Homo sapiens: one gene and its partner. The protein of the gene in region 2 interacts with the protein of the main gene of each other region in a biochemical or structural test. Each region holds a gene or a part of one and is shown on either strand. Other genes may lie near its edges.

The links. Proteins that work in one complex are often made in the same cells at the same time.
Region 1: the proteins of CA9 (region 2) and CAND1 interact in a test that uses a peptide from one of them, tested with the Homo sapiens proteins (one study listed by BioGRID).

What each region holds. Positions count from the first base shown.
Region 1 is NC_000012.12:67,272,356-67,279,388, reverse strand, and holds part of CAND1 (cullin-associated NEDD8-dissociated protein 1), read right to left. Parts: intron 5,890-7,033; exon of another isoform or gene 5,763-5,889; intron 1-5,762. UniProt on the Homo sapiens protein: Key assembly factor of SCF (SKP1-CUL1-F-box protein) E3 ubiquitin ligase complexes that promotes the exchange of the substrate-recognition F-box subunit in SCF complexes, thereby playing a key role in the cellular repertoire of SCF complexes.
Region 2 is NC_000009.12:35,676,910-35,681,674, forward strand, and holds the end of CA9 (carbonic anhydrase 9 precursor), read left to right. Parts: intron 1-767; coding exon of another isoform or gene 768-782; exon of another isoform or gene 783-880; coding exon 881-947; intron 948-2,275; coding exon 2,276-2,433; intron 2,434-2,944; coding exon 2,945-3,089; intron 3,090-3,203; coding exon 3,204-3,230; intron 3,231-3,843; coding exon 3,844-3,925; intron 3,926-4,055; coding exon 4,056-4,116; 3' UTR 4,117-4,250; downstream 4,251-4,765. UniProt on the Homo sapiens protein: Catalyzes the interconversion between carbon dioxide and water and the dissociated ions of carbonic acid (i.e. bicarbonate and hydrogen ions).

The sequences.
Region 1 (7,033 bases), on a different chromosome or scaffold from region 2:
GCTGTCCATGGCATGTCCATGTCTCTTCAGCATTTACTCTTTTAGGTATGGTGCTAAGGGCACAGATCTCAATACATTTTATAAAACACTACTCAAGAGCATATGGAAATTATCACACCCAAGAGTTGACTGTTAGGTTGGATCTCAAAGGATGAACAGGGGTTTGCATGGGAAAAATTGGTTTGGAATTTAAATTACTTTTTTTTTTTTTTTTGGTGGTGGGGAAGGACAGAGCACCTCAGAGTGAAGGACTAAGGAAACAGTTCAGTATGTGGAGCACAGAAACCTAATAGGAAGATGATGGGAATATAGGCTGAGGTCAAAATGGGAATGGCGTTATATACTCATACACTGTGTAATAAGAACCTACTACATATCAGGTACTGTACTAGTTTTTGCTGATATAAGGGCTAACCAAAGCACACACAATTCTTGCTGTCTTGGAGCTTACATTGCAGTCTAGTAAAAGGCATATTAACTTTTTAAATTGCATGTATGAGTAAGCACCTGTAGAACTAAGAACTAAGATAAATGCTATGAAGGAAAGTGTTATCAAGAAAACACTATGGGGCCAGGTGCCAGTGGCTCACGCCTGTAATCCCAGCACTTTGGGAGGCCAAGGCAGGCAGATCTCCTGAGGTCAGGAGTTCGACACCAGCCTGGCCAACATGGTGAAACCCTGTCTCTACTAAAATTACAAAAATTAGCTGGGTGTGGTGGTGTACACCTGTAATCTCACCTACTTGGGAGGCTAAGGCAGGAGAATCGCTTGAACCTGGGACACAGAGGTTGCAGTGAGCCGAGATTGAGCCACTGCACTACAGCCTAGGTGACAGAGTGAGATTCATCCCAAAACAAGAAAGCACTATCATATAAACAAAGTAACATGACCTAGACTGAACTGCGGGTTGTGTCAGGAAAGACTGATCTGAAGAGTAGGAGCTGGGCATGGTGGCTCACACCTGTAATCCCAGCACTTTGGGAGACCTAGGCAGGTGGAGGTCAGGAGTTCCAAACCAGCCTGGACAACATGGTGAAACCCCGTCTCTACCAAAAATACAAAATTAGCCAGGCATGGTAGTACATGCCTGTAATCCCACCTATTTGGGAGGCTGAGGCAGGGGAAATGCTTGAACCTGGGCGGCAGTCGCTTGAAGCCGGGCAGTGGAGGTTGCAGTGAGTCAAGATCACGTCACTGCACCCCAGCCTGAGCAAAAGAGTGACACTCTGTCTCAAAAATAAATAAAGAGTAGGCAAAATTACGGTGAAGCAGGAGGAAGTTAGTGCCAGGTAAGCAAGGGCCAGGAATTTAAAGGATTTGTAGACCATATCAGGATTTTAGCCTTTATTCTAAGAGAGTGGGAAGCTACTGAAAAACAACTGGGTTACAGATGGGGAATAAATGCAATGATCAGATTTACATTTCAGAAACATTACTCCAGCTATACTGTGGACCATACTTTGGAGAGAACAAATCTTCATTTGGCCATACTGAATGGAGACTAGTTAGGAGAATGACTAAGTTAGAAATTATGATGGCCTGACTTAGGTTATGGCAATCAATGAAGATGGAAAAAAAAATGACATACAGTTGATTCTCATTATTCCCAGGTTCCATATTTGCAAATTCACCTACTCATTAACATTTATTTGTAAAGCAAAATTAATGCTTCCTATTTCACAGTCATTTGGATGAGTGTCGAGTGGTGAAAATTTTGAGTAATCCAACACATACATTCCCAGCTGTGGTGGCACAAAGCAACACTCTGCCTTCTAGCTCCAGCTCTCATGTTGTAAACAAGCATCTTCTTCTTGGCCTATTTCAGCCCATGTTTTTCACATGTTTGTGCTTTTTCTTGGCGCTCTTGTTGTTTAATATGGCCTCCAAGCACAGTGCTGAAATGCTGTCTAGCATTCCTAAGTGCAAGAAGGCTATAATGTGCCTTCTGAAAAAAACATATGTGTTAGATAAGCTTCTTTATTGGCTGTGAATTCAATGTTAATAAATCAGCAATATATATTAAGACAACTTTAAAAGAAACACTCATAAAACGAGGTTACAAACTCATCAACTGATTAAAATAATGTGACTCAGGACTCAGAGAAACTAATTCCATAATTCCCTCAGAAGCAATGGTTCAGTACTTGCTAACTCAGTGTTTGTGATAATGTTACAAAACATACTACAAATAATGAGAACTAGTTGGTTTGAATTTTACAAACTAAAATTAATAGTTCTTCAAAATGGATTAGATATAGGGATGGTAAGGATGAGCTAGCAGGAAAGAAGTAAAAGGAAAACCACAAGACTGGGTAATACAGTCAGCTAACATATCCTTGTCCAGAGTCTTAATGTTACCCTGCAGCCATTGTCACATCAGATGAATAAACTGCTCATCTTACAACAGAAGAAAGGATTAACTTTGGTTAAACTGCAAACTACATGGAATGGATATTCCTCTGATCTTAACAAAATCTCCGCCATAGTGAAGATGTGAAAATCAAAAATTAATGTCCTGCAGCCCAACTTTGTCTACCCTTGGCCAAAAGTGGGCACTGATAAAGAAAAAAACAGCAGCCTCCACATTCCAGAAACTTATCTGAGACTCATAACTAAACCTCAGTGTTATTACTAACCGATCTGATGCTTAACAGCTAAGGCATATTGTTTTCTTGGACATAAACAATCTCACAGAACATCCATTTCGGACAAGGTCCCTGAGCAATACAAAATACCAAACATTCCCCTCTCCAGTTAAATGAGTGACTGATACTTCTTTACCAACTACAGCTTTCCCCCTGCTTAGGTCAGCCCTCCCTGTAAAATTTATTAAGAGGCCGAATCATAGAATTGACCTCACTTTCTGACAACACTCAACCTAAAGCAAGGCTTCACTTCCTTAGACTCTTTCCCAAATTACCCAAATGAATAGGTTCCTTCTAACATCCTCTGATACCCTAAAGTGTGTGTTTTCCCTGACTATTACGGACAAAAACCCAACTCGTGTCAGGATGCCCATATAAGAGAATTCCAAGAAGGAAAAAGTGATTTAAAAAAATATACCAAATAGATGAGCAAAGAAAATATCCACTAAATGAGTTATATTAGGAGACTAGGGAGACTGTTGGGGATTTTAGGAGAGCAGTCTCTACGAATTCAGATGGGCAACAGCTAAGAAATCTGGAGTTTATCTTGTAGTCAATGGAAATTAGTGAGGGAGGCAATGATCAGCTGCAGTATATAGGAAGAAAATTCTAATGGCCAGAGGGAACAAACTGGGTTAGGAAGAGGCCTGAGACAGCAAGATTAATTTGAGAAATACTCATCAGGAGACTAAAGAAGACAGACGGGAGAAGGGTGATATCAAAGATTTTCTGCTTGTGACTTTCAGTGGATGGTAATTTAACAGGCCAAAATAAGGATAAAGAAGGCATTAAGACGGGAAAAGAAAAAGATAAATGTTTACGTTTCAGACTTCAATGGAATTCCCAGGTTGATATGACCTGTAGGCAGTGCCATCTCATTCCTTTATTCAACAAGTATTTTGAGGGCACCAACATAAGGAACTCTACTCTGCAAACACAGTGATGAGTAACACAGTCTGGAACTTACACTAGGTATGCACTAGATCGATAGATACCTTGCACTCACAATAACTCTCACCACAGCCTCTCCCATCATACATAAACACAATTTTACTCTTGCTTCCAACCAGAAATCTAGTTGATATGGTCAATTTTATCACTCAGTACACCAATTACCTTTCAGAGATCCTGCACATACACCACTGCTATTTCACTTTTCCTCAGTTATTCCTTAGAGTGCTATGAATTAAGTTGGAACAGTTTTTTTTTTTTTCTTTTTGAGACAGTCTCCCTCTGTCACCCAGGCCACAGTGCAGTGGTGCAATCTCTGCTCACGCAACCTCTGCCTCGCAGGTTCAAGCAATTCTGCTGCCTCAGCCTCGCGAGTAGCTGGGATTACAGGTATGCACCACCATGCCCGGCTAATTTTTGTATTTTTAGTAGAGATGGGGTTTCACCATGTTGTCCAGGCTGGTCATGAACTCCTGACCTCAGATGATCTGCCTGCCTTGGCCTCCCAAAGTGCTGGAATTACAGTCGTGAGCCACCACACAAGACCTAAATTGGAATAGTCTTAATATTGTTCATGTAAAGAAATCTAATTTTTACTAATCTTTCTTCCCAGTTTTCTCTGTGAGGTCCCTTCCTCCTCTTTCTCAGTGGTGAGCCCTAATCACTGCTGATAACCAGTTAGCATAGTATATATCAAGAAAAAAACATCAAAGTAAAATCAAGAAAGTTACTGCCATCAACCTTCTAAGTATTTTTAAAAGTGCCCAGAAATCACCTTCTTAATCTCTGCAAATCTATTTCTTCTGATTAAACCTGCTTTTCTCCAAGCACAAGTACTTAAGATAATTTCACTATTTCCTGTTATGTTATTGTAAATGCCCACCCACACTGTACTTTCAGCTATATGATAGGATCTCTAAGGTTCCTTCCAGCTCTGAAAACCTGATTCCTTAAAAGGCTTGAGTTTTTTTTACAAGCATTTTAAACAGTTTCCAAAAGAAAATACCGTCCAATATCCAAAACACTTAAATAAATAAATCTGGTAATATAAACCTTTATCAAATTGGGAAAAACTTGCATTCCAAAATGGGGTGAATTATTTTAAGAAGATTCTATCAAGTGGTATTTAAACAAACAGTTTAGTTGATTTTACAATGGTTTTCTGGAGGTTCCTAAAATCCCTATATAATGGAAATAAAACCCAATTCTACTTAAACAAGCACCTACTGAGAACCCACATGGCCCAGAGCCAGACAAAGAGAACGATTCCGTTTAGTAAGACAAGGTCCCTATTCTTAAGGAGTTCTGTGGACAATATCCATCCAGCTACAGTCAGGTTATCTATTCCCTCTTCCCCAGTGAAGTTTTGTATCGTGTGCTTTACATTTTCACTTTCTATCTAGAGTTTCATTTTCAACACCTGGCTCAAATCTCTCCATGGACATGAATCTTCTTGCTTTAATATTCTCTGCCACTTAATGCCTGACAATTACATATTGCCCTGGGTTATTCATCTTTTTACAATAGTGTCTTAACTATTCAACAAGCATGTAGATTTAGGGAAAGTAAGCACCAGATCTTAAACTTTTTGTAGTCCTCAGGAATTATTAAAAGCATCTTCTAGCATGAAATATTCTATAAGCCTAATTTTAGAGGGAAATGAAATTTAAGGCCTGAATCTTAACATCCACTAGTCTAAACCCTGGAGAAGTGACATAGCTGGGTGGTCAAGAGTTCATGTTCTGGGGGTAAAGAGATCCTATAAGTCCCAGACCTACTATCTAACTGACCTTAAACAAGTACTTAATCTCTCCAAATCTCAGTTTCTTCAACTGTAAACGAGATTATTATTATCCTCTTTTACTAAAGTTGTAAGGATAAACAAAAATCAAGCTCACAGTAAGCATTAATATTAACTATTATATATAGAAAGATAATGATATTTTCTTTAGCTCTTGATTCCTTGGAATATTTTAAATCAACTGGTGGTTGAAGAATATGAAAATAAAAGAAGTGGCTGGGCACAGTGGCTCAAGCCTGTAATCCCAGCACTTTGGGAGGCCAAGGTGGGCAGATTGCCGGAAATCAAGAGTTTGAGACCAGCCTGGGAAACATGGTGATACCCATCTCTATAAAAAAAATTAGCTGAGTGTGGTGGTGCGCACCTGTAGTCCCAGCTACTCTGGGGGCTGAGGTGGGAAGAAAATCGCTTGAGCCCAGGAGGTTGAAGCTGCAGTGAGTTGAGGTGGTGCCACTGCACTCCAGCGTGGGTGACAGAGCGAGACCCTATCTCTAAAAAAAAAAAAAAAAAAGAAAAGAACTTAGTTACCTCAACCTACCAAATATTCAATATTAATATTCACAAATGGAGTGTCACATGGTTCATCCACATTAAAGCTTTCACTCTGGTATCAACCGAATCCCCTATCTATTGGCTACATTATAAGGTTTACTCTTTATTCCTTTATGGAACATGCATCCCTAGAGGTCCTTAAAATAACTATATACACTGGTACAAATGTTTTCTGGCAAAAAGTCTCAGTACACTCCAGAAGTGTTTCTTTTAGGGAGGAAGTGATGAGAAGCACTGTTCTAAGGTACTGTCCCAAGGAATGTTTCTTCATTTTTCTTCTGAAGGTTTTATTTGAATTGGCATTCATTAATAACTTTTCACTAAACCGAGGCTAGTAAGTAACAGGCACTATCCTAGTAATTAAGACACACAAATGCCTCCTCCTTTTTTTAATAAAAGAGCTCCTAGTCTCCTTTTTTTAAAACAAACAAACAAAAAACCCTGCATGGGTGGATGCGGTGCTGGCCTGTAATCCCAGCACTCTGGGAGGCCCAGGCGGGTGGATCACGAGGTTAGAAGATCGAGACCATGCTGGCGAACATGGTGAAACCCCGTCTTGACTAAAATACAAAAAATTAGCCAGGCGTGGTGGTGTGTGCCTGTAATCCCAGCTACTTGGGAGGCTGAGGCAAGGGAGTTGCTTGAACCTGGGAGGCGGAGGTTGAAGTGAGCTGAGATGGCGCCCCTGCACTACAGCCTGGCGACAGAAAAGACTCCATCTCAAAAAAACAAACAAAAAAAACCAAAACAACAACAACAACAAAAACCCTGCATATGGCAGAGTTCCTAATCTCAGCATTTCTCATCCTAATGCTTCCCCATTTCTCCTAAGTCTTAATATCTCATTTTTAAATAATGCACAATACTAAAACACAAAAGAAATATTACAATTTTTCAATAAATTGAGCCTTAATAGTCCTACAAAAAGATTCTTTTAAAATGCAGAAATTTCCAAATTTTTAAGCCTGCATTCATTTCTTTACCTTCTCTGTATTAATGAACTATGTAATTATATAAATAGACCTGAAATTTTATGCCTATAACAACCTTTTGTAATTAGTCATGTCCATGCCTCTCAGAAGT
Region 2 (4,765 bases):
TGGTGTGATCTTGGGTCACTGCAACTTCCGCCTCCCGGGTTCAAGGGATTCTCCTGCCTCAGCTTCCTGAGTAGCTGGGGTTACAGGTGTGTGCCACCATGCCCAGCTAATTTTTTTTTGTATTTTTAGTAGACAGGGTTTCACCATGTTGGTCAGGCTGGTCTCAAACTCCTGGCCTCAAGTGATCCGCCTGACTCAGCCTACCAAAGTGCTGATTACAAGTGTGAGCCACCGTGCCCAGCCACACTCACTGATTCTTTAATGCCAGCCACACAGCACAAAGTTCAGAGAAATGCCTCCATCATAGCATGTCAATATGTTCATACTCTTAGGTTCATAATGTTCTTAACATTAGGTTCATAAGCAAAATAAGAAAAAAGAATAATAAATAAAAGAAGTGGCATGTCAGGACCTCACCTGAAAAGCCAAACACAGAATCATGAAGGTGAATGCAGAGGTGACACCAACACAAAGGTGTATATATGGTTTCCTGTGGGGAGTATGTACGGAGGCAGCAGTGAGTGAGACTGCAAACGTCAGAAGGGCACGGGTCACTGAGAGCCTAGTATCCTAAGTAAAGTGGGCTCTCTCCCTCTCTCTCCAGCTTGTCATTGAAAACCAGTCCACCAAGCTTGTTGGTTCGCACAGCAAGAGTACATAGAGTTTGAAATAATACATAGGATTTTAAGAGGGAGACACTGTCTCTAAAAAAAAAAACAACAGCAACAACAAAAAGCAACAACCATTACAATTTTATGTTCCCTCAGCATTCTCAGAGCTGAGGAATGGGAGAGGTCTATGGGAACCCCCCTTCATGTTCCGGCCTTCAGCCATGGCCCTGGATACATGCACTCATCTGTCTTACAATGTCATCCCCCAGGAGGGCCCGGAAGAAAACAGTGCCTATGAGCAGTTGCTGTCTCGCTTGGAAGAAATCGCTGAGGAAGGTCAGTTTGTTGGTCTGGCCACTAATCTCTGTGGCCTAGTTCATAAAGAATCACCCTTTGGAGCTTCAGGTCTGAGGCTGGAGATGGGCTCCCTCCAGTGCAGGAGGGATTGAAGCATGAGCCAGCGCTCATCTTGATAATAACCATGAAGCTGACAGACACAGTTACCCGCAAACGGCTGCCTACAGATTGAAAACCAAGCAAAAACCGCCGGGCACGGTGGCTCACGCCTGTAATCCCAGCACTTTGGGAGGCCAAGGCAGGTGGATCACGAGGTCAAGAGATCAAGACCATCCTGGCCAACATGGTGAAACCCCATCTCTACTAAAAATACGAAAAAATAGCCAGGCGTGGTGGCGGGTGCCTGTAATCCCAGCTACTCGGGAGGCTGAGGCAGGAGAATGGCATGAACCCGGGAGGCAGAAGTTGCAGTGAGCCGAGATCGTGCCACTGCACTCCAGCCTGGGCAACAGAGCGAGACTCTTGTCTCAAAAAAAAAAAAAAAAAAGAAAACCAAGCAAAAACCAAAATGAGACAAAAAAAACAAGACCAAAAAATGGTGTTTGGAATTGTCAAGGTCAAGTCTGGAGAGCTAAACTTTTTCTGAGAACTGTTTATCTTTAATAAGCATCAAATATTTTAACTTTGTAAATACTTTTGTTGGAAATCGTTCTCTTCTTAGTCACTCTTGGGTCATTTTAAATCTCACTTACTCTACTAGACCTTTTAGGTTTCTGCTAGACTAGGTAGAACTCTGCCTTTGCATTTCTTGTGTCTGTTTTGTATAGTTATCAATATTCATATTTATTTACAAGTTATTCAGATCATTTTTTCTTTTCTTTTCTTTTTTTTTTTTTTTACATCTTTAGTAGAGACAGGGTTTCACCATATTGGCCAGGCTGCTCTCAAACTCCTGACCTTGTGATCCACCAGCCTCGGCCTCCCAAAGTGCTGGGATTCATTTTTTCTTTTTAATTTGCTCTGGGCTTAAACTTGTGGCCCAGCACTTTATGATGGTACACAGAGTTAAGAGTGTAGACTCAGACGGTCTTTCTTCTTTCCTTCTCTTCCTTCCTCCCTTCCCTCCCACCTTCCCTTCTCTCCTTCCTTTCTTTCTTCCTCTCTTGCTTCCTCAGGCCTCTTCCAGTTGCTCCAAAGCCCTGTACTTTTTTTTGAGTTACGTCTTATGGGAAGGGCCTGCACTTAGCGAAGAAGTGGTCTCAGAGTTGAGTTACCTTGGCTTCTGGGAGGTGAAACTGTATCCCTATACCCTGAAGCTTTAAGGGGGTGCAATGTAGATGAGACCCCAACATAGATCCTCTTCACAGGCTCAGAGACTCAGGTCCCAGGACTGGACATATCTGCACTCCTGCCCTCTGACTTCAGCCGCTACTTCCAATATGAGGGGTCTCTGACTACACCGCCCTGTGCCCAGGGTGTCATCTGGACTGTGTTTAACCAGACAGTGATGCTGAGTGCTAAGCAGGTGGGCCTGGGGTGTGTGTGGACACAGTGGGTGCGGGGGAAAGAGGATGTAAGATGAGATGAGAAACAGGAGAAGAAAGAAATCAAGGCTGGGCTCTGTGGCTTACGCCTATAATCCCACCACGTTGGGAGGCTGAGGTGGGAGAATGGTTTGAGCCCAGGAGTTCAAGACAAGGCGGGGCAACATAGTGTGACCCCATCTCTACCAAAAAAACCCCAACAAAACCAAAAATAGCCGGGCATGGTGGTATGCGCCTAGTCCCAGCTACTCAAGGAGGCTGAGGTGGGAAGATCGCTTGATTCCAGGAGTTTGAGACTGCAGTGAGCTATGATCCCACCACTGCCTACCATCTTTAGGATACATTTATTTATTTATAAAAGAAATCAAGAGGCTGGATGGGGAATACAGGAGCTGGAGGGTGGAGCCCTGAGGTGCTGGTTGTGAGCTGGCCTGGGACCCTTGTTTCCTGTCATGCCATGAACCCACCCACACTGTCCACTGACCTCCCTAGCTCCACACCCTCTCTGACACCCTGTGGGGACCTGGTGACTCTCGGCTACAGCTGAACTTCCGAGCGACGCAGCCTTTGAATGGGCGAGTGATTGAGGCCTCCTTCCCTGCTGGAGTGGACAGCAGTCCTCGGGCTGCTGAGCCAGGTACAGCTTTGTCTGGTTTCCCCCCAGCCAGTAGTCCCTTATCCTCCCATGTGTGTGCCAGTGTCTGTCATTGGTGGTCACAGCCCGCCTCTCACATCTCCTTTTTCTCTCCAGTCCAGCTGAATTCCTGCCTGGCTGCTGGTGAGTCTGCCCCTCCTCTTGGTCCTGATGCCAGGAGACTCCTCAGCACCATTCAGCCCCAGGGCTGCTCAGGACCGCCTCTGCTCCCTCTCCTTTTCTGCAGAACAGACCCCAACCCCAATATTAGAGAGGCAGATCATGGTGGGGATTCCCCCATTGTCCCCAGAGGCTAATTGATTAGAATGAAGCTTGAGAAATCTCCCAGCATCCCTCTCGCAAAACAATCCCCCCCCTTTTTTTAAAGATAGGGTCTCACTCTGTTGCCCAGGCTGGGGTGTTGTGGCACGATCATAGCTCACTGCAGCCTCGAACTCCTAGGCTCAGGCAATCCTTTCACCTTAGCTTCTCAAAGCACTGGGACTGTAGGCATGAGCCACTGTGCCTGGCCCCAAACGGCCCTTTTACTTGGCTTTTAGGAAGCAAAAACGGTGCTTATCTTACCCCTTCTCGTGTATCCACCCTCATCCCTTGGCTGGCCTCTTCTGGAGACTGAGGCACTAGGGGCTGCCTGAGAACTCGGGGCAGGGGTGGTGGAGTGCACTGAGGCAGGTGTTGAGGAACTCTGCAGACCCCTCTTCCTTCCCAAAGCAGCCCTCTCTGCTCTCCATCGCAGGTGACATCCTAGCCCTGGTTTTTGGCCTCCTTTTTGCTGTCACCAGCGTCGCGTTCCTTGTGCAGATGAGAAGGCAGCACAGGTATTACACTGACCCTTTCTTCAGGCACAAGCTTCCCCCACCCTTGTGGAGTCACTTCATGCAAAGCGCATGCAAATGAGCTGCTCCTGGGCCAGTTTTCTGATTAGCCTTTCCTGTTGTGTACACACAGAAGGGGAACCAAAGGGGGTGTGAGCTACCGCCCAGCAGAGGTAGCCGAGACTGGAGCCTAGAGGCTGGATCTTGGAGAATGTGAGAAGCCAGCCAGAGGCATCTGAGGGGGAGCCGGTAACTGTCCTGTCCTGCTCATTATGCCACTTCCTTTTAACTGCCAAGAAATTTTTTAAAATAAATATTTATAATAAAATATGTGTTAGTCACCTTTGTTCCCCAAATCAGAAGGATGGTATTTGAATTTCCTATTACTGTTATTAGCACGAATTTAGTGGTAATGCATTTATTCTATTACAGTTCGGAGGTCAGCAGTCAGATGTCAGTAGGGCTTGTTCCTCCTTCCACACATCACTCCAATCTCTTGCTCCCATTGTCACAACTCCTACCTCCACATTTGACCTCCTTGTCTCCTCAAGAACCCTTGGGATTACACTGGGCCTAACTAGATAACCAAGGATAATCATCCCATCTCAAAATCTTAATCACCAAGTTTCTTCCCATGTAAGATAAGAACAATGCACAGGATTAGAACATGGACATCTTTGGAGAAGGGGAATTATTCTGCCTACCACAGATGCTATCAGGAAGAGGACAGAAATGACTGATACTGTTGGGATGGCTGTGTGTGTGTGTGTGTTTGTGTGTGTGTGCAGTGTATGTGTTGAGGGGTAGGGCAGACAGCAGCCCTAGGCTTAACATCACACTCAG